Regions from separate parts of the Homo sapiens genome. Here region 2 is linked to region 1. The links come from fine-mapping of genetic effects on gene expression. A gene starts in region 1. The other region holds a variant in brackets. All regions are shown on one strand. Distances are from middle to middle. Region 1 holds the start of STRBP (spermatid perinuclear RNA binding protein). Region 2 holds the start of RC3H2 (ring finger and CCCH-type domains 2).

What was found.
Region 2: its variant is fine-mapped to the expression of STRBP in testis (GTEx, PIP above 0.99).

The regions. Positions count from the first base shown.
Region 1 is chr9:123,264,313-123,274,225 of GRCh38, forward strand. STRBP (spermatid perinuclear RNA binding protein) reads right to left here and starts at 4,274. Exons shown (of 19, transcript NM_018387.5): 1 at 4,124-4,274. RefSeq lists silencers at 4,000-4,049, 4,220-4,699 and an enhancer at 4,100-4,600.
Region 2 is chr9:122,902,911-122,912,823 of GRCh38, forward strand. It overlaps RC3H2 (ring finger and CCCH-type domains 2), which reads right to left and starts at 2,449. Exons shown (of 21, transcript NM_001100588.3): 1 at 2,200-2,449. It overlaps ZBTB6 (zinc finger and BTB domain containing 6), which reads right to left. Exons shown (of 2, transcript NM_006626.6): 2 at 5,146-9,171. The coding sequence starts at 9,162. The coding sequence ends at 7,888. RefSeq lists a silencer at 1,904-2,553. The variant T/A (reference allele first, on the strand shown) is at 5,402.

The sequences.
Region 1 (9,913 bases):
AAACCAGCACTAACACTTAGCTGAGAAATTGGAAAGGTAAGCAGACAGCAAAGAATGAACAAACTTCAATTTGCAGACATCTCTTTCACATAAGTTTCATCTCTATCCAACTTTCACACAACAAATTAATCCACCTAATGGTAAATTACGAAGTACTAACATTTGACCAGTCTAAAAACCACAGGGGAGAAAAAAGAAACTAAGTAACATCTATCCCCGTATTTACGTAGCTCCAGTCTTCCCGAAAGACTTAAACTTGTTTTATATAAACCACCTTGATTCTCATGGGAGATGGATAGAGTCAGATTTCTAGAGAAGAAACCAGCACAAAGGGATTAAATATCTTGTCCAGCAAGTCACCAGCGAAAATAAAACCAGAACCCAATTATTCAGCCTACAAAGCCTAAATAACCTGCTTTCCTTGGTTCGTAAACTTAGGATATCTAAAGTGCCTACAAATTGTCCCAATTCATAGAATTTCACTGAACAATACATATAATCCGAACACTATACCAGAATTGAGTATTCTGAGCAAGAAAGTAGTGCGCACCCCAAGTCAATAAAATGAACACAATGGACTTAAGAAATATAAGGAGGAAACAATGGCTATGTTGGAGAGAACTTTCAAAGCTCACTCTATTCATCTTATATCCTACTGCTCAAATTCTCTGCCAAAAAGCAAATGAGGTCAGACATGCTCCCTATATTATATTGTATACATATATCAAATCTCAAAATACTCAGAGTTTCAATCGAAGGGACATTATACTCTAAAAATCTTTCCCTCCAAAAATAAAATCTTACAGTAATGCCTTCAGAGCATTCTTTTGCTGCCATGACACACTTCAAATTTGGATTTTACGAATCATTTGCTTCCAGGTTTTTTTTTTAATATTTATATTAACGGATTCCGATTACTTAAAATTTGGTGTTCTGCTCCGCCCTCATTATGTTTAGGCAAGATTCCCACTTCCACTCAAACTTATTATTCGAACATACAATGGCTGCATTAAGATACTTCCTAAATCGACAAAAGAAGAAAACTAATCAACCCAGAAAGCTCCCAAGCTACCAAAGCGAACCTTTTATTTGAAATCATACTAGGTACCACACTACACATTACGTGAAGCCCACAGAGTGATAATTGAAGTTATTTCTGCAACATGATGAAATTTATTTCTTAGCAAAATCTGACAAGACTTAATTTTCAACTGTCAAAAGGGAAATCGTTTTCCAAGATTCTAGGAAACCTTGCTTACTGAAGCAGTCTCAAAGTAGTTTGCTTAATCCTTTCAAACCCCTAAGAATCTAACACAAGCCACAGAACAGTGAATGAGACTTGCACTGAAATAAATGTCTGTGTTCAAACCCCTAAAGGTTACTTCCCATGTGTTTGGCAAGCTGAAGGCCATATGTCCGCCCAACCCATAAGTGTCTTTCCTCAATAAAGCTAACATTACACTTCCCAACTCAAATCAAAATACCAGAGAATCCAAAAGCCTCCAACTAAATTTTACCTGAACCATTTGGGAGAAAAAGTCAACAATCCAGATCAGTTATTCACGCCTTGAAAGAGTGTTAAGAGTCAGAAAGCTCCAATTCTGCCACTTTTAGGAGCTAGGTGTACATTACTTCTGTCTGCCTATAGCATGGGACTCAGATATTACATCACCCCATGCTGCCTGAATACTGACCCATTACCCAGAAAGCACCAGGGTATCTGAGACACTGCACCAAGGTATCCCTTTCTTCCTCTCTTATGCATAGCCCTTGAATGCTACTGGCCACTGGGCCTGGTCTCTTCCAGTTTCACAAAGACATCTGCCCTGCACCTGCTGCAATCCCATTTCCATTCACTCTTGGTGCGCTCCTCGTGACCCTGTGTGGCCCTTCTGTCCACTCGTCAAACCAATATGCTAGGATGATACCCACTACACACCTCTCCCAAATTTGGGGATGTGCACTCAGCTCTCCCTTACCCCTTCCCCCTTCCTCATTTACTGGGTTCTGGAATTAAAAGCAGGCTCAACGATCTCTCTGACCCTAGGAGTATGAACTTTCAGATATGACACTGAGTTTAATGTCCTCCACTTTCCATTAACATCATTCCAGGATCCAGGTCCCCCCACCCCTCAATCTCCAGTTTCTCTCAGTATGGAATTTAATCCTCTCCATTTAGTTATTTTTCCAACTTCTGCACTCTGCCTGATCTTCCTTAGACTCTCAGTGACCTAAAAATCTTGGCCCCTTTCATCTCTCAAACTCAAAGTGTTCCAATCTCTCCCCATACTTCCACTCCTTGGATCTTCCATACTCTCTTAAGCAACCTGTGTTCCTAGCTCTCTCCAACTTAAGCAGTCATTTCCTGCCCTAAACCTGGGCATCCTATTTCCCCCACCACCACCACCACCACTCCAATCCATCACCTATGCCTTTCTAGTTACAGACATGTCCACATACACCTCTGCCTTGCCCTTCCCTTACTCCACTATAGGTATTAAGCATTCTTCTACATCCTCTACCCCAAAATAGCCTGTCTACCTTCCTTCTTTCTCCCTACCTCCCTTCTCCCTACAGCACAAAATTCAGTGCCCCAAACCTGTGCTTCCCTCCCTCCACCTACTGTACTCCAGACCTGTCCACCTTCCCCTCCAGTCTATCCCGTTGTCCCCCTCTACTGATTTCGTTCTCACCCTCCCCTCCACCTTCCTCCTCCCCAACCGCTCCACACTTCCCGCCTCAGAAATCTTTCCTTCCATTTGTCCCCACACTTTACCTGCCACTCCAAGAACACTTCCCTTTCCCCACCCCCTTTTGCCCTCCACCTCACACACTCCACGCCACCCCACACCTGTCCCTCTCCCCCAGCTCCTGCCCCTAACGTCCTCCAACACTTGCCAAGAACCCCTCACCCTCCGTCCTACCTCAAAATTCCCTCTCTTGCTGATCCCACCTTCTTCCATACTTCCTGCATAAACACCCTCCATTTCACGCACTTCTCCCGCTATCCTTTAAATGCCCCACACACCTCCTGCTCTCCATCCCCATCACCCTTCTCCTACTGTCCCCACCTCTCTCTGCAAGCCCTCAAACTAAGTCTCTGCCCCAATGAACTTCCCCCTTCCACCCCATACTCCTCTTCCCTGAGCACCAGATACCTGCCTTTTTATCCTTACATGTCAACCCCCTCCCGCCTCCCTGCAGGCTCCCCTATACACCTGGCCACACACTCCCTCACACCCCTCGCAGGTCTCCTGGAGCCCCTGGGCCTACCCTTCATTTCCCTATCACCCCAGAAGCCTAGGCACCCTGCTCCCCTCCCTCCCTTTCAGGCGCTCCCTGCCTGCCCTCACTTCCCCCTGCCCCGACCCCCTCCTCCATCGTTCCCCTTCACGGGCGTCCCGGTGGCCTTCCTAATACCCGCCCCACTCCCTGCCCCTGGCACGCAGCGCTCCTTCCAGTCCTGCTCGAGTCCCCAGTCTTCTCCCTCCATTCCCACCCCACTCGTCCCTGCCCTCCCCAAAAGCCCCCTCATTCCCTCTTGAACCCCACAATATAGTGCCCCCCCCCACCGGACGGAATGTCCTCCATCTCGCACTCGCCTGGCCCAGGGGGCCCCCCAAACCTGCCTGAAGGCTCTCCTCCTCCATTGGGCCGGATCCCTCTGCACCCCTATTTACCCCCAAATCTGCCCACACCTTCCGCCTGCCCCCCGAAGCCTCTCCCCAGCTCCTGCCCCCAATGTCCTCCAACACCTGCCCCGAGCCCCGAGCCCTCCGTCCCGGAAGACCTCCCGGCACCGCGTCCCCCAACCCTGCCCACGCCCTCCCCTGATCGGCCGGGACCCCGTCCCCGCGAAGGTGAGGAAGGCTGCCCGCTGCCCTTGCCCGAAGCGGCCGGGGCACCGCAGCGGCGGCGGCGGCGGCCACAATGCCGGAGCCGCGGGGCCGGGATTGCTCCCTGCTCTCCGCCTCGGCCGCCACCGCCGCCGCCGCTGCTAAGGACGCACAACAAACAATGCGGGGCCCGGGCCGGCTCCGCCAACCGCCTCAACCGCCGCCTTAACCGCCGCCCGCCCGGGACGGCCCGCCGCGCAGGCGCCCGCCCCGCCGCCGGAGCCTACCCGCGCCGCCGCGCTCTGCCCGCGCCCGGTACCCGCTCCCGCTCCGCCGCCGCCGCCACCTCGCCCGCTCGCGTCTCCGGCTCCTCTGCCCAGCGGCGGCGGCTGCGGCGGCTGCTGCCCTGGTGGCGCTCGCGGCTCCGGTCTCCGCTTCGGCGGCGGCAGCGGCGGCAGCGAGCACGTGACACCGTCGAGCGCGCCCATTGGCCAGGCCAGGGGGCGGGCCCCGCGGCTGCTGGGGAACGGAAAGCCCGCCCCCTCGTTCGCCGCGCGCCCCCTCCACGCGCGTCCTGCCGCACCTGAGAGCGCCGGCCAGCGCCCGCCGCCGCCTTGCTGTGCCGCCGCCTGCGCCAAGTGCGCACCTGGGAGCGCGCAGGGAGCACTCGCCGCCGGCGGCCTTATGCACCTGCCAGCGGACGCTTACGTAAACTGCGTCCCCGCCTTCCTCCCGGCCCCAGGCCCCCGCTCGCTGCAGCACCTGAGCCCCGCTGCGCTAGCGGCGTAACTGCGGCGGAGCGGAGACGAGCTGCGCTGGGAGGCTAGCGAAATGCACGGAAACTTCGTAACTTCCGAACCTGGGAGCTGCGCCGAGCCGCGGCGGCTAGCCGCCTTCCCCGGGCCCCGCACCCCAGTGCGGGATGCCCCCCAACCCCAGCAGCCACACAAATGGAGTAGGCGTCGCACTGCCTCCCGAGGTAGAGGGGCAGGCCAGTAGGCTTTGACTTGTGCCACCGCCCACCTACTTGCTGGCTGTGTGACCTTGGCCAAGTTACCAAGAACCGTTCTGAGCCTCAGTTTCCTCATCAGGAAAACTGGGACAATAATTCCAATTTAGGAGCTGTTGGGGAGATGGCATAAGACAATAGGTGTGAATCCTGGCACACAGCAGTCGCTGAACAGAAGCTGCTACAATCACCTCTCCTTCACCTGCCTATAATGAACCTCGCTGGGATTGAGTTTGGGCCCAGGACCTCTCTGACCTCCTTATGGTTGGGTCAGACTTTGGCTGAACACCTACCAGCTCTGTGCCAGGGGCGGCGCTGGGGAAGAATTAAAGGTTCGCTTTCTATTCTACAGTCCCTGGCCTCAAGTTCTTGGTGCCCAGCATTCTGCTTGCCAGTATACAGTCCCTGCTGTATACCGGGGGGTTTGCAGGCTGCAGGGATGCACTGGCAAATGAGACAATGTCTTTGCCCTAAGACAATTCCCAGCCTGGAGCAGAAACGACCTGACCACTCAGTGCCAAGACAGAGGACCTTGAACAGCCCAGGGGTTGAGGAGGGACTCCCCACAACAGCCCCCTTGGGGCCCCTTTTCATCTTTCTAACACACCAGGCTCAAATATTTTAACAGCTCTGTTTCATTCACAGAATAAAGTGTAAAAAACCCAATTTCAACTGAAAAGGCCTTGGTGATCTGGCCTTAAGCTTCAAGGTGCACGCCCTTCCCTTTGCCCCTCCTTCAGGCCAATGTGACCCTCCAGCCACACAGAACTACAGTACTGTTGTTTCCAGAGTATGCCCAGGTGTGTAGGAGCCTGAGTCTCCTGAGACAGATGCCAGGCCGCAAATCCCTTTCTAAACCCTCTCCCCACCTCTGACCACTCACACCTTCCTTGACCCTCCTGAAAAAAATCCTGGGTATCCTTATCAATCAGCTCAGAGTATATTCTCTGGAGATCCTTGGCTGCCTCAGACACATGGTCTAAGCTCCCTCGGCTTGAACATAGTCCTGTTAAGCTATATGTATTCTCATGGCACTAGATTGTAATTGTTTAGCTGTCTGTCTCCTCCCTGGTCTCTCAGTCCCTTGAGGACAGGGTCATCTTCCTGCCTAAGTGTGTTAGGGAAGACTACACGTGCACATGACATGAGATCATTAAAGCTGGGTTTTGTAGGATGCCCATAAGTATCAGAGGGAGAAGAGGCGCCACACTGTAAAGATCCAGATTCACTGCACACTAGCTGTGTGATCTTGGAAAATCAATCTCTCTAGTCTAAGTTTACTCATCTGCCAAGTGAGACTAATAGTATTGCATATTGTAGGGTTGTTAGAAGGATTCATTGCAACCGTATATCTAAGGCACTCAGCACGGTGTCCAGCACTTGGTTACATTTTTAATTTTTTTAAAATAGAAGAACAGCATGGCATTAAGGATTCAATAGTATTTCTTGTTTCAATATCTTTATTGGGTTTGTAACTCCAAACACTGAGACAAAAGCATGCAAATTATATAAAAGGAAAGAAAGTAAAAAGTTAGGCCAGACGCAGTGGCTCACGCTGGTAATCCTAGCACTTTTGGGAGGCCGAGGCGTGTGGATCACCTGAGGTCAGGAGTTCAAGACCAGCCTGGCCAATGGGGCAAAACCCCATCTCTACTAAAAATACGAAAATTAGCCGGACGTGTTGGTGTGTACCTGTAATCCTAGCTACTCGGGAGGCTGAGGCAGGAGAATCGCTTGAACCCGGGGGGCAGAGGTTGCAATGAGCCGAGATCCCGTGATTGCACTCTAGCCTGGACAACAAGAGCGAAACTCCGTCTCAAAAAAAAAGTTAATGTCTCTCTCCCTTCCTGCCCTTGACTCCACTCCCACTACCCCAATCCCAACTCCAGAGTAGTTACTGTTAATTTTTCATGTCCCTCATTACATGTCCAAAGAAAAAAGAAAGTTGCAGAAAATTATTTATCTGTAATGTGTATGTTGGATTCTCCATAGAAAAACGTCAGAAAGGATTAAACACCAACCACTATTGGTTATGCCTGGAAGATAGAACTGGGTGTGGGGATGGAGGACTTAAAAATTTCTGCATTGTTTTAATTTTTTAAGGATACATATGCAGATTTTTGTTTTGCTTTGTTTTTGAGAGGGGTCTTGCTCTGTCGCCCAGGCTGTAGTGCAGTGGCGCAATCTTGGCTCACTGTAACCTCTGCCTCCTGGGTTCAAGTGATACTCTTGCCTCAGCTTCCTGAGTAGCTGAGATTACAGGCGCCTGCCACCATGCCTGGCTAATTTTTGTATTTTAGTAGAGATGAGGTTTCACCATGTTGGTCAGGCTAGTCTTGAACTCCTGACTTCAAATGATCTGCCCGCCTCGGCCTCCCAAAGTGTTGAGATTACAGGCGTGAACCACCGTGCCCAGCCTGTTTTGTTTTGAGACAGAGTCTCACTCTGTCACCCAGTCTGGAGTGCAGTGGCACAATCTCGCCTCACTGCAACCTCAGTCTCCCAGGTTCAAGCCATTCTCCTGCCTCAGCCTCCCAAGTAGCTGGGATTACAGGCGTGTGCCTCCACACCCGTCTAATTTTTTTTGTATTTTTAGTAGAGATGGGCCAGGCTGGTCTCGAACTCCTGGTCTCAAGTGATTCTCCCGCCTTGGCCTCCCAAAGTGCTGTGATTACAGGCGTGTAATCACACATAGATTTTTAACAATTTACTTGAGGTATAGTTTACACATAAAATTATGCATTTCAAAAATGTACAATCCAATGATTTTCAGTAACTTCACTAAGTGGTGCAACATTAACATAAGTCAGTTTCAGAACATTTAGCATACCTTGCCGGGCACGGTGGCTCAGCACTTTGGGAGGCCAAGGTGGGCAGATCACGAGGTCAGGAGATCGAGACCATCCTGACCACCATGGTGAAACCCCGTCTCTACTAAAAATACAAAAATTAGCTGGGCATGGTGGTGGACACCTGTAATCCCAGCTACTCAGGAGGCTGAGCCAGGAGAATGGCTTGAACCCAGGAGGCAGAGGTTACAGTGAGCCAAGATCATGGCACTGCACTCCAGCCTGGTGACAGAGGAAAACTCTGTCTAAAAAAAAAAGAACATTTAGCATACCTTATGGATCCCCCGTAAGACTCTCATGCTCATTAAGTGTTAATCCCATTTCCAACCCTGGCCACAAGCAAACACCAGTCTACTTTCTGTCTCTATTTTTTGTTTTTTCTGGTATATCTGATACTTCTTTTTTTTTAGACAGAGTTTTGTTCTGTCACCCAGGCTGGAGTGCAGTGGCGCAATCTCGGCTCACTGAAACCTCTGTCTCCCAGGTTCAAGCGATCCTCCCACCTCAGCCTCCTGAGCAGCTGGGACTACAGGCATGCCATTGTGCCAGGTTAACTTTTTGTATTTTTTTTAGTAGAGACTGGGTTTCATCATGTTGCCCAGGCTGGTCTCAAACTCTGGGCTCAAGGGATACTCCCTCCTCAGCCTCCTAAAGTGCTGCAACTACAGGTGTGAGCCTCTGCACAGGGCCTGATACATTTTTGTAAAAAAATCAAACAGACTGGTTGGGTGCCGGGGGCTCATGCCTGTAATACCAGCACTTTGGGAGGCCGAGGTGAGCGGATCGCCTGAGGTCAGGAGTTAGGGACCAGTCTGGCTAACATGGTGAAACCCCATCTCTACTAAAAATACAAAAATTAGCCGGGTGCAGTGGCACGTGCCTGTAGTCCCAGCTACTCAGGAGGCTGAGGCAGGAGAATCACTTGAACCCAGGAGGCGGAGGTTACAGTCAGCCAAGATGGTGCCACTGCACTCCAGCCTGGGAGACACAGCAAGACTCCGTCTCAAACAAACAAACAAATAAATAAATAAATAAATAAATAAAGTAGACCTTTTCGGCCTGGCACAGTGGCTCACACCTGTAATCTCAGCACTTTTGGATGCCGAGACGGATGGATCTCTTGAGGCCAGAAATTTGAAACCAGCCTGGCGAACATGGTGAAACCTTGTCCCTACCAAAAAATAGACAAATTAGCCAGGTGTGGTGGCACATGCCTGTAGTTCCAACTACTTGGGAGGCTGAGGTGGGAGAATCACTTGAACCTGGGAGACAGAGTTTTCAGGGAGCCAAGATCACACCACTGCACTCCAGCCTGGGTGACAGAACCTCTTGAAAAAAAAAAAAAAAGAAAGAAAGAACAAAAATCAAATAGACCTTTTAGGAAAAAAGAATAAAGGCCAGGTGCTGTGGCTCATGCCTGTAATCCCAGCACTTTGGGAGGCTGAGGTGGGTGGATCACCTGAGGTCAGGAGTTCGAGACCAGCCTGGCCAACATGGTGAAACCCTGTCTCTACTAAAAATACAAAAAATTAGCCAGGTGTGTTGGCAGGCACCTGTAATCCCAGATACTTGGGAGGCTGAGGCAAGAGAATTGCTTGAACCCAGGAGGCGGAGGTTGCAGTGAGCCAAGTTCACGCCATTGCACTCCAGCCTGGGTGACAAGAGGAAAACTCTGTCTCAAAAAAAAAAAAAAAAAAAAAAAGGAAAAAGAAAAAGAAAAGAAAAAAAGGAATAAAAGTGTCACCTAATCTCAACCAGTAATAATAACCCAAACTTTTCCTATGTATATATATTGTTCCAACCTTTTTTATGCATATAAATATATCTCTTTTACAAAGTGAGATTATTGTATGCCTTCTGTTTTGATTATTTTCACTTAATATAAAATGAATACACTTCCTTTTGTGTAACTAAATATTCTTCTGCATAATGTCGTATTTTAAGAAACATTTAATTAAACCAAGTACCTGTGTTGGGTATTTGGGTGCTTTCCAATATTTTCACTATTATAAATAGGGGAAGGTAATAGACGTTGTAAAGCTCTTGAGTTCAGCGCACTTTGAAATCACACCTAAGTTCAAGTACCAGCACCCCCTGTTTTATCCATTTATTGCTCAAATATTTACTGAAAACCTATTACATGCTAGTTCCTAGGAATACAAAAGCAAGCAAACAGCTACCCTGCCCCAGCTGAAGGTGGGCTCTGGTCTAACTCCCAG
Region 2 (9,913 bases), 360 kb before region 1:
CCAGTTTATACAAAATATCATTTCAACATGTTGTCAATATTAAAATTACTGAGATATTAAAAAAAATCTTGGTACTAAGTCTTTGAAATCTGGTATTTTACACCTAAAGCACATCTCAATTCACAGAAGCCACATTTCAAATCTTCAACTGTCACATGTGGCCACTGGCTAGTACTGGACAGTGCAACTCTAGAATATTTAAATTATAAAGTAATACTTAGAACTTTTATCAGGAAATTGAGGTAAAACTCACACTTACACTTAAAGCTTTAGTAAAATTAGAGACGCTGATCATAACATTCATGAGACTGGATGCAAAACATGAACTTATTTTTAATTTTCAGCTAGCTTTATTTTACCCATGCTTCCTTTTTCCATCACTAAAAAGTGAAACTTCAACACGGTACAAACTAAACAGTAAGTAGTTACTAAAACCTTGTTATGAAGTTTTTTTTAGCGTTCTTAGCTATTGCAAACAATGTAGAAGTTCAACTTTTGAATATAAAATCCTGAGTGTAAAGAAGAATGCTTTGCCAAAATGCAAATTTTTGGTTTTTTCAAAGTGGAAGACAGCAAATTACAAAAGCAGAGTATGATTTAACAAAAATATATGAACAAAGGACGTAAGTCTTCTTACATGTCAGGTTACCACAACAGAAATAACAGATCAGGGGTAACTCAAAGGATCCACTAATGAACACGAGTGTAATTAAATCCTCATAGAACAAGTGCCTGTTTGAATTATAACATCTGCTTTTTCTAAACGTAACTAGAATATGTTTCACATTCTGTCCTCCTAGCAATTTTCCAAACTCTAAAATTTTGAAAACATTAATCTCCAAATCAACGAAAATGTCAATATTGAAAAGCAGTCTTTAACAGGATGTAACGACCTCTATTTCTTCAAAAATTGAACGTGGAAGTAAACAACGTAAGAAAGGCATGTGAAGCTACAACAGTGGTATAGCTTTTTAGACAGCTAAAAGGTTTTTTAAAAAGGAGAATCTATTAATATTCTTAATATCGTAAAAAGCTTTTAACTAAGTTTGTATGTTTAACCATTAAAAGGCTGCACTGGCTAACATTTGTTTCTTTGCTTTTGAGTGACTTTATACCACTGTGGTATAGCAACGTTAGCTTTCTCAGGTTAACCAAAAGTTCCTACTGGAACTTAAAAGTTTGGCCAATACAAAATTGGAAAAAAGATTACTTAAAGCACTTTATTTGGGATACAAACTCACCCACCCACAATGGGTAGGGGGAGAGTAGAAATGAAAAAAAGGAAGGCCGTGGGTAAGGGGAGAGGAGGAATTAAAAAGGGAACCCAAGGGTTATGAAAATATAAATAAATCACTGGATTAGATTTACTTTATGCCAGTGATTACTTGAGTCAATTTTGGTGTGAAGGATTTATCTGCCGGTATCTTAAACGGCTGCCTTGGGATTTGAAGGATGGAAATGACAGCTACCCTCATCTTCTCCCATCCTGAAAGCTAAGGATAGAAAAAAGTACAGCTGCTTCTCTGGGAAACAAAGATGCTTTCTACCATTCTTCTAAGATGGTGGAAGAGTCTCCTCAAGAGGCTACACCAAAAAGGAAAAATGAGAGAGGGAAAGAAGAAAGCCATAGCAGAATTTCCTGGCTGTGTTTCATGCCATTGCTCCTAGCCACAACCCCTGTGCAACCACTCAGGTCCGGCCGTCCCCATCCTGGGAGGTTAAGCCCTCCCAGGGCATTGTTTGGCCGGGGTTCCTATTTACCACTCAGATCGCCTCCACCACCCTCTACGCTAGGGTCTCGGGAAGCCCCAGGGCAGAAAGCTGAAAAGCTAGGAGAAGACTTGGTTTCGAGGACCTCTTCCAAACCCCCTTACTAACTGGTGTAGAAAAGGGAGAGTGAAGCCGGGCCTTTGCTTGGGTGGGTTCGTTAGGGGTCAGAGGCGTCCGCTCGGCCAGTGTCGAAGGAAGGTGGCCATTTGAGCCGGTCGCTCCGCATCGAAAAAGCCCTACCAGAGAGAGGGGCCTCCGCAGGGCCCGGGTTCCATCCGAGTGTCAGGTGCGGCCCTCAGTTCCCAACCCTCGAGGCACCAGGGGCGACAGCGCACAGGCCCCAGGGCTGAGACTGGTCTCCCGCCCGACCGCCGGGGACCAGGCACCCGGGCTGGGGCCCGAGCCGCATCGTGCCCGCCCCCGCCCTACCTGAGGGGGCCCGGGCGGGGTCGCTAAGGGCCGCTCCCGGGAGCCCCGCGACGGCGCGGCTTGGCGACGGAGGCGCCTCGTCTCGCCGGGGCAGAGCTCGGCGGAGGTTTCACGACCTCAAACTCCATCGGGAGCTACAGGGACAGCCCCGTTGGCGGCGGCGAAGGCCGCGACGGGGCCTCCTCCTCCTCCCTCCACCTCCGCCTCCTCCTCCTCCTCCTCCTCACCACGGAGGCGGACCTGGAGGGATCCCGATCTAGCTCTCGCGAGAAGTTACTCCCCACTTAACGCGAGATTACGCAAGCCCGGGAGTCGGGAGTTGGAAGGAAAGCGTAGTAGCCCCAGCCACCCAAACTGCGAATCAACTTCCCTCTGCCTCAGCGGATCCACCCCGATCACGTGACAAGGGAGCCCCGGAGCACTGTGGGAGGTACTGTGAGAAGGACTAGGCAAGCCGAAGGGATTGATGGGAAATTCCCTGCACATTCATCTGCGCCTTGAGCCGGCTTCCTAGACGCTGGTTTGAGCGAGTGTCTTAACTCCCTTCGTGAAAAGCGTGGAATCCATTGAGCAGAATCTGATACATCTGTGTCACATTCTTCTTCACACTCCTGTGATGACATGCCGACAGGATCCCTCAATCCCTTTACAAAGATGTCAAGTAATCTCCCCATTACAAAAACAAGAAGAAAACATGTATTTGGCAGGCACTTCCACATCTCACTTCTTTATTAAAGAGAAAACTCTGTTTCTAGACAAAGAGTCCAAAGTGGGGGGGGGAGGGGGGGAAGAAAGCTCTGAGCTCCTCAAAAGCTGGCAAAAATAAAAAATTTAAGCACAAATTCTGGCATCATATCTCAAATATTTGTTGAAGCTTTTTACACAGCGAACTAAGGTAAGAATTATTCTTACAGTTTATAATTTATAGATGAAACAGACTTGGAATAGGGATATCAGAATTAACATTTATAAACTACTTAGTATGTGTCAGGCAGGTCCTGTGTTAGGTGATATTTAATTTTAAATATTTTAGTTTTATTTACATTTCATTTAATTAGCAAAGTGATCCTAGAAGACAGATACAATGTACCCCTTGTTACTGATGAGAAACTAAAGAATGTAGGCTAGAAAATGACCATGACGCCGGGCGCGGTGGCTGATGCCTGTAATACCAGCACTTTGGGAGGCCGAAGCGGGTGGACCGCCAGGTCAGAAGTTAGAGACCAGTCTGGCCAACATAGTGAAACCCTGGCTCTACTAAAAATACAAAAATTAGCCGGGTGTGGTGGCGGGCACCTGTAATCCCAGCTACTCGGGGGGCTGAGGCAGGAGAATCACTTGAACCCGGGAGACGGAGGTTGCAGTGAGCCGAGACCGCGCCATTGCACTACAGCCAGGCGGGGGGGCAGTGCCAGACTCCGTCTCAACAAAAAAAAGAAGAAAAAAAATGACCATGACTTGTAATTAAACTCAAGGCACTTTCCAATGTGAAATCAGATGCCCAACAACAAAAATATCGAAGTAAACCTACGATAAATTAGAATATGGAAAGGTTGCTTCTACAGTTTTAACAAAATATATAGTTATTACCTATTATATTTGTCTGAATGACAGGCAAAAATCAGTGTTTTTGAAAAAAGATTCATTGGCCACATCGAAGACGTTTCTTCCACACATTATCTTTTTCGTTCTCTTCTCTTTATGAAACATATGCCAGGCCTAGAGAACTGTTAACAACCAATAATTGTTTCAGTAATTTCAACTGGACAGTGATAGGTAATTTACATGTACATATTTGTTTTCCACCCTACTGTGTATATATATATATACACACATATATACATATATGCACATATATACATATATACATACATATAAATATATATACACATATATAGATACATATAAGTATATATACACATATAAACATACACATTATATATACATATATGTACATATTTTTTTTTTTGAGACGGAGTCTCACTCTGTCACACAGGCTGGAGTGCAATGGTGTGATCTCAGCTCACTGCAACCTCCACCTCCTGGGTTCAAGGAATTCTCCTGCCTTAGCCTCCCCAGTAGCTGGAATTACAGGCACCCGTCATCATGCCCGGCTAAATTTCTTTTTTGTATTTTTGTAGAGACGGGTTTTCACCATGTTGGCCAGGCTGGTCTTGAACTCCTGACCTCAGAAGACCCGCCTGCCTCGGCCTCCAAAAGTGCTGGGATTGCAGGCGTGAGCCACCAGTCCAGGCCAAATTTTTCTATTCTACTGGATATATTTACATTTCACTAGACAGAAGAATATATATTTCTGATAATCCGAGATTTTTCAAAGGTGTCCTGGTCACCATATTTATTTTTGAGATGGGGTCTTGCTCCCTCAGTTAGGCTGACTGCAGCGGTGCGATATTGGCTTACTGCAACCTCTGCCTCCCAGGTTCAACGGATTCTCCTGTCTCAGACTCCCGAGTAGCTGGGATTACAGGCAAGCGCTACCATGCCCGGCTAATTTTTGTATTTTTAGTGAAGGGTTTTCATCAGGTTGGCCAGGCTTGTCTCAAACTCCTGACCTCAAGTGATCTGCCAGCCTCGGCCTCCCTAAGTGTTAGGATTACAGGCCTGAGCCTCGGCGCCCGGCGCTGACCACCATATTTAAAATTGCAATTCCATCCCCCTTCTCTGGTACTCCCTATTCCTGATTTTTCTCCAAATTCCTTCTCAAAATTTGACATACATGGATTTTACTTACTTGTTTACTGTTTGTCTCCCTTCACTAAGATGTTTCACAAGAGCAGGAATTTTTGTCTGTATACCTAACTTATATTTCATTGTAAGGACTCAGGAAGTATTTGCTAGATGAATGATTAATGTATAGTCAGGAGAAATTGTATCCTTTAAATTGTATCCTTTAAAATTCAAAGATGAAGACAAAACACATTGTTCTCCATTCCCACCTCCAGTTTATTATTTCTTATGTAAACATGTAAGATAGTTACATCCCAGGAAAAAGGGCAAGTGTTTTTCTCTGACAACGAAGTAACAACTACCTTTTCAAGATCTTTTATATGTAAATGGAGTAAATGAAGAGGCTGAACTCAAACACTTTTCATTTTTCTGTCATATCAGAAACATAAACTAAATGTGAATATGTTAAATGAATAAATTCTATACTTTGTCATACCTGAACTTTAAAAAAAGA[T/A]TCCATTTTCCTGAAAATTTTTAGACATATCATGCAAACAGACACTCTCCTAGGAATGTTTGGAGATCATTCCGTGCTACTGAACAGGAATAAATAATATAAATAATAACCATCACTTTCACAAAACACCCCTCCCCCAGCAAAAATCTCAAAGTGCTCACAAAAAATTTTACAACAATCTTACAAGGCACACATAAAACTTAAACATAGTTTCAACCAATTTTTTTTCAAATATCCAAGATAGTAGATACTAATTCTTAAAAAATCAGAGTACTATTCTTTTACCCTCTCCTCCCATCTCCATCCTTCCCCCTTCCCCCCACGCCATTTTATAATAGGAAGCAAAAATAAGAAAAGTACTTCAATCACTAGTAAACTATTTCTGAAAAGAAAATATTTTCACACCAACAAATGGCCAATCTTAGGTCAAATGGAAGCAATGAACTATGAATGAAAAATTAGCAATGAGCTATCACACTTTCCAGTGGAAAAAGATCCACTAATTAGAAAAATTATGTCTCCAATGGAGTACTTAAGTAACAAAGTTCATAAAGACACAAAACCGTCCTCTCTTGCTTTCCCCTCTTCTGTTCTCAGGAAGAATTAAATACAAAATCATGGAATTTTAGACCTGGAAATGATCTTTCAAATGACCAAGATCAAAGTTATTTTACATATAAAGTTAAAAAGTTCAAGGAGAAATTCAGCACAATGTCGCTAACTAGTAACATTGGGTTATGAAGTCGGTTTTTTCATCAAACGAGACCTGCATTCTTGAAAGTCTCAAGGAAAGTTAAAATTCAGTGGAGAATGTCTTTCCCACAAAATTGTCAAAAAAAGGTTAACACTTATAACAACGAACATGTGATTCATTCATCACACAATTTTTATAAATGGTACAAAGTATATTACATTTTAAAATACAGAAGGGCTTCAATAGAAATTAAATACAGTAGAAATTCTACATAAAGCTAAGTTAACTAGAGGAGGACTAGAACAGCTTCAAAGAAAGATGCATCTAGTCAGTCTTCTTTACGAAAAGCAGTTCCTGTGTTTTAGAGAATATTATTTGCCCTGCAGTATATTTTAATCTTTGTTAAAATAATTTATAAAAGTTTTGTGTTATATGTAGACGGAGATGTTAGAGAACTATGGCTCAGAACACCATCTCAAATATGACTCTCGCTAAAATAATCATACAGTCATAGTTTTCCTTTTGGCATATTTTTGGAAATATAAAACTCTAGGGATGGTTAAGATTTTTATCAACACATAGTGAATGGAAATTACATTAATGTAAATGAAAAAATACAACACTAATAGCTACACCTTTTTAAATTGCTCATCTAGTAACAGCTAGAATATATATTGCCAATTCAAAATTTAAAATGACATGGATGAACCTCAAAGTCATTATGCTGGGTGAAAAAGCATTTCAAGAGGGAACGTACTATAAGATTCTGTTTATATGACAGTCCAGAAAAGGCAAAATAATAGTGACGGAGAACTGTTGCCAGGATTAGAGCTAGAAGGAGCTGACTACAAAGGGACAGCATAAGAGAGCTATTGGGAGTGAAGGAACTGTTCTGTACCGACTGCAGTAGTGGTGCACAAATCTTTCTGTTAAAATTCACAGAACTATACACCAAGAAGAAATTTCAATTTTACTTCATGTTAAATAAAAAATAAAATAGAGAGGAACTTTTAAAACAGTAGAACAGATATCCCTGGTAAAGGTAGAATTTCTCATTTTTCACAGCTTCATGCCAATGGTATAATTTTACTGGCCACAAAATTATTAAATCCGATTGTATTAAATAAAATCAAGAAACTCGGGCCCAATGAACCATTTCTTAAGTATGTATACTAATAAGGCATGGAAATAAAAGTATTTTAAGGATTATTAACCCTGTATAAAAAAATTCTGCTATTCCCAAGTGAATCTGAATTGTTACTTTATACATTTTAAAATGAAAAGTATCTTGGTGTTTAGTTTGGAATCCAAGAACAGCTGGTAAAAAGTTAAAAAAAAATTTTTTTAGTGCCATCTGTTCTAAAGTGACTAGAAACAGGTAATAGTGTTTTTACCTTTATTTTCTCTTCTTGTTATCCTAATTCATTAAAGTTTTTATATGATTGGATTTTATACTTAAATCAATTACCTAGAGACTCCAAATCGGAATCTGCAAATACTGCTGGATCCTTTGTCACTAGAATCAAGAATATATAAGAGAGGAACACTATTTCTCTAGGGATACTACTGAGACTTATATGTAAGGTATGAGATGAGACAGAATCCCATCAGCTTTACTGTGCCTCCCATAACTTTGGAACTGTTAGAAGTTCAGAAAGAATGATTATGTGTAAGCCGACAAAATATAAGAAACAAAGATTGGGGGGATGAAATATTACAAATGCTGCATCTCTACAGAAAGACTTGCGTAATAGAATAATACAAACTTTATATAACAAGTCTGTGATTATAATTATAGTAGACTTTGCCTTTTGAGATCAGGCCTAGATAGTTTTTCACCACTGCTTCTGCCATGGACAGAGGTTAAGTGCTTTTTGAGAGCAGACTTGTGCTTGAAATCCATATCACAACAGTGGCATTTGTATGGCCGATCCCCACTGTGTATGTTCAAGTGGTCCTGAAGTGTGCTTTTGGCAGTAAATGTCTTCAAGCACACAGTACACTGAAAGGGCCGTATGCCCATGTGTCCTCGGATGTGTCGGTTGAGATTTTTCTTCTGTGTAAATGTTTTTCCGCACTGTAAGCATAAGAATAGTTTATGCATTTTAAGGTGGCGCAGATAGTTTTCAACATGAAGAAAGCCTCGAGGACACCTGGGGCACTGGTGCCTCAGTGAATAACCTTCCTCCAGATTCTGAATCTCACTCACTGTACCATAACTTCCTTCAGTATTCTCACAAAATAAGCCCTGATCTTGATTCCCAGGAACTTCAGCCACTCTGCTCTCAACTGTAGAATTGATCAATGAATGCTGTGTTTCAGAGAAATACATGCTTGCTTTTGAAGAGGTACAAGGCTGTGAAAACTGCCCATTTTCGACACCAGCTGTACTGATGGATTCTACATGAAGGATACAAATTTCATTGTCTTTAAAACCTATGTCTACTGTAGACAGCTCTGGTGACTTCATTTCCTTTCTCTCTGATGTCAGACTCTCTACTGTAGACTGCAAAGCATTGCTTTCCTCTTCTTTAACATGGAAATCTATGTTTACAGGACTATCTTCTGAAATTTCAATTATCTCACAGTCTTTATCAGAATTTTCATCTTCATTCTTAACATCAGGATCAGAAGACTGACACAGGTCAGTGTGTTGGTTGTTGTTTTTCATAGAAAGATCAATTTCCAGATACTTTGACAAAGCTTCTGTGCACTTTTCCACAATGTGAACCATCTGAAGGTAACTGGCAGCAGTCAAGTATTTCAAAAGCTCTTTCCTTTTAACTTCAAGTGCTCCAGTATAGCAAGACAGTAACAATTTTCTGCCAACTTCTGCACTCTGTAAGATGGTGATTCTGACATGTTTTGACTGTGTGAGTAAAAACTGATCTCTCATAAAAGTGGAGCAAGCAGCCAAAATCACCTTGTGCCCCTGGAACTCAGTGTCATTAATGTAAATTGATACATCACAAAATAAATTCTGCTGTCTCAAAAGATTCATTTTCTGCAAGACCACATCTCCTTGCTGTTCAAACTGGAAATGCAGAACATCAGACTCAGCAGCCATGATCACAATCTAAGCAAAATAAAACACAAACATTGATGTAATAAGGATAGGGAATGCTTTCCCATGCTGTAATGGTGAAAACAAACGAAAAACCCCAAACCTGAATTAGGAAGAAGAAGACTCAAAGTCTAATGTAGGTGTTATGAACCTTTATGCCACCATCTCAAAACGAGAACTTTATAATGCACTTCTCTATGATCTCATAGCACATTTTTCATAACTTTGTTACAACATTCATTACAATGAATTGTAGTGAACAGTTTCTAGCTTGTTTCTTTTGCTAAATGTTGTGTGCCTTGTGGTCAAGAACAATCTATCAATTTTGAATATCCAATATAAGCACTGTGACCACCAAAAAGTTGATTTAACATAATATATCCAATTAGCAACTTTAACGTAATCTCCAAACTTCCTACTCCCCACCACTACAACAGGTCCTCCTTCCGGTTCACCTGGACAACTGCAATGTCTTCCAACAGGTCTTCTTTATACCACACTCTTCTGTATGCCAGATTACCCGCCTGAGTGCCACCAGGATTAACAACCCTTATTTTATTTTATTTTTAATTTCCCTTTTCTGCTTTAAATCTTCTATCGTTCTTCTCTACCTCCGGGACAGTCCAGATTTCTTAGGAAAGAATACGAGACCCATCACGATTTGGCTCTAACCCATCTTTATGGCTTTATCACCTTCTATTCTCTTTTTCATACTCGAACCTCGTTCAATACTAAATTTTTCCATCATTACCCA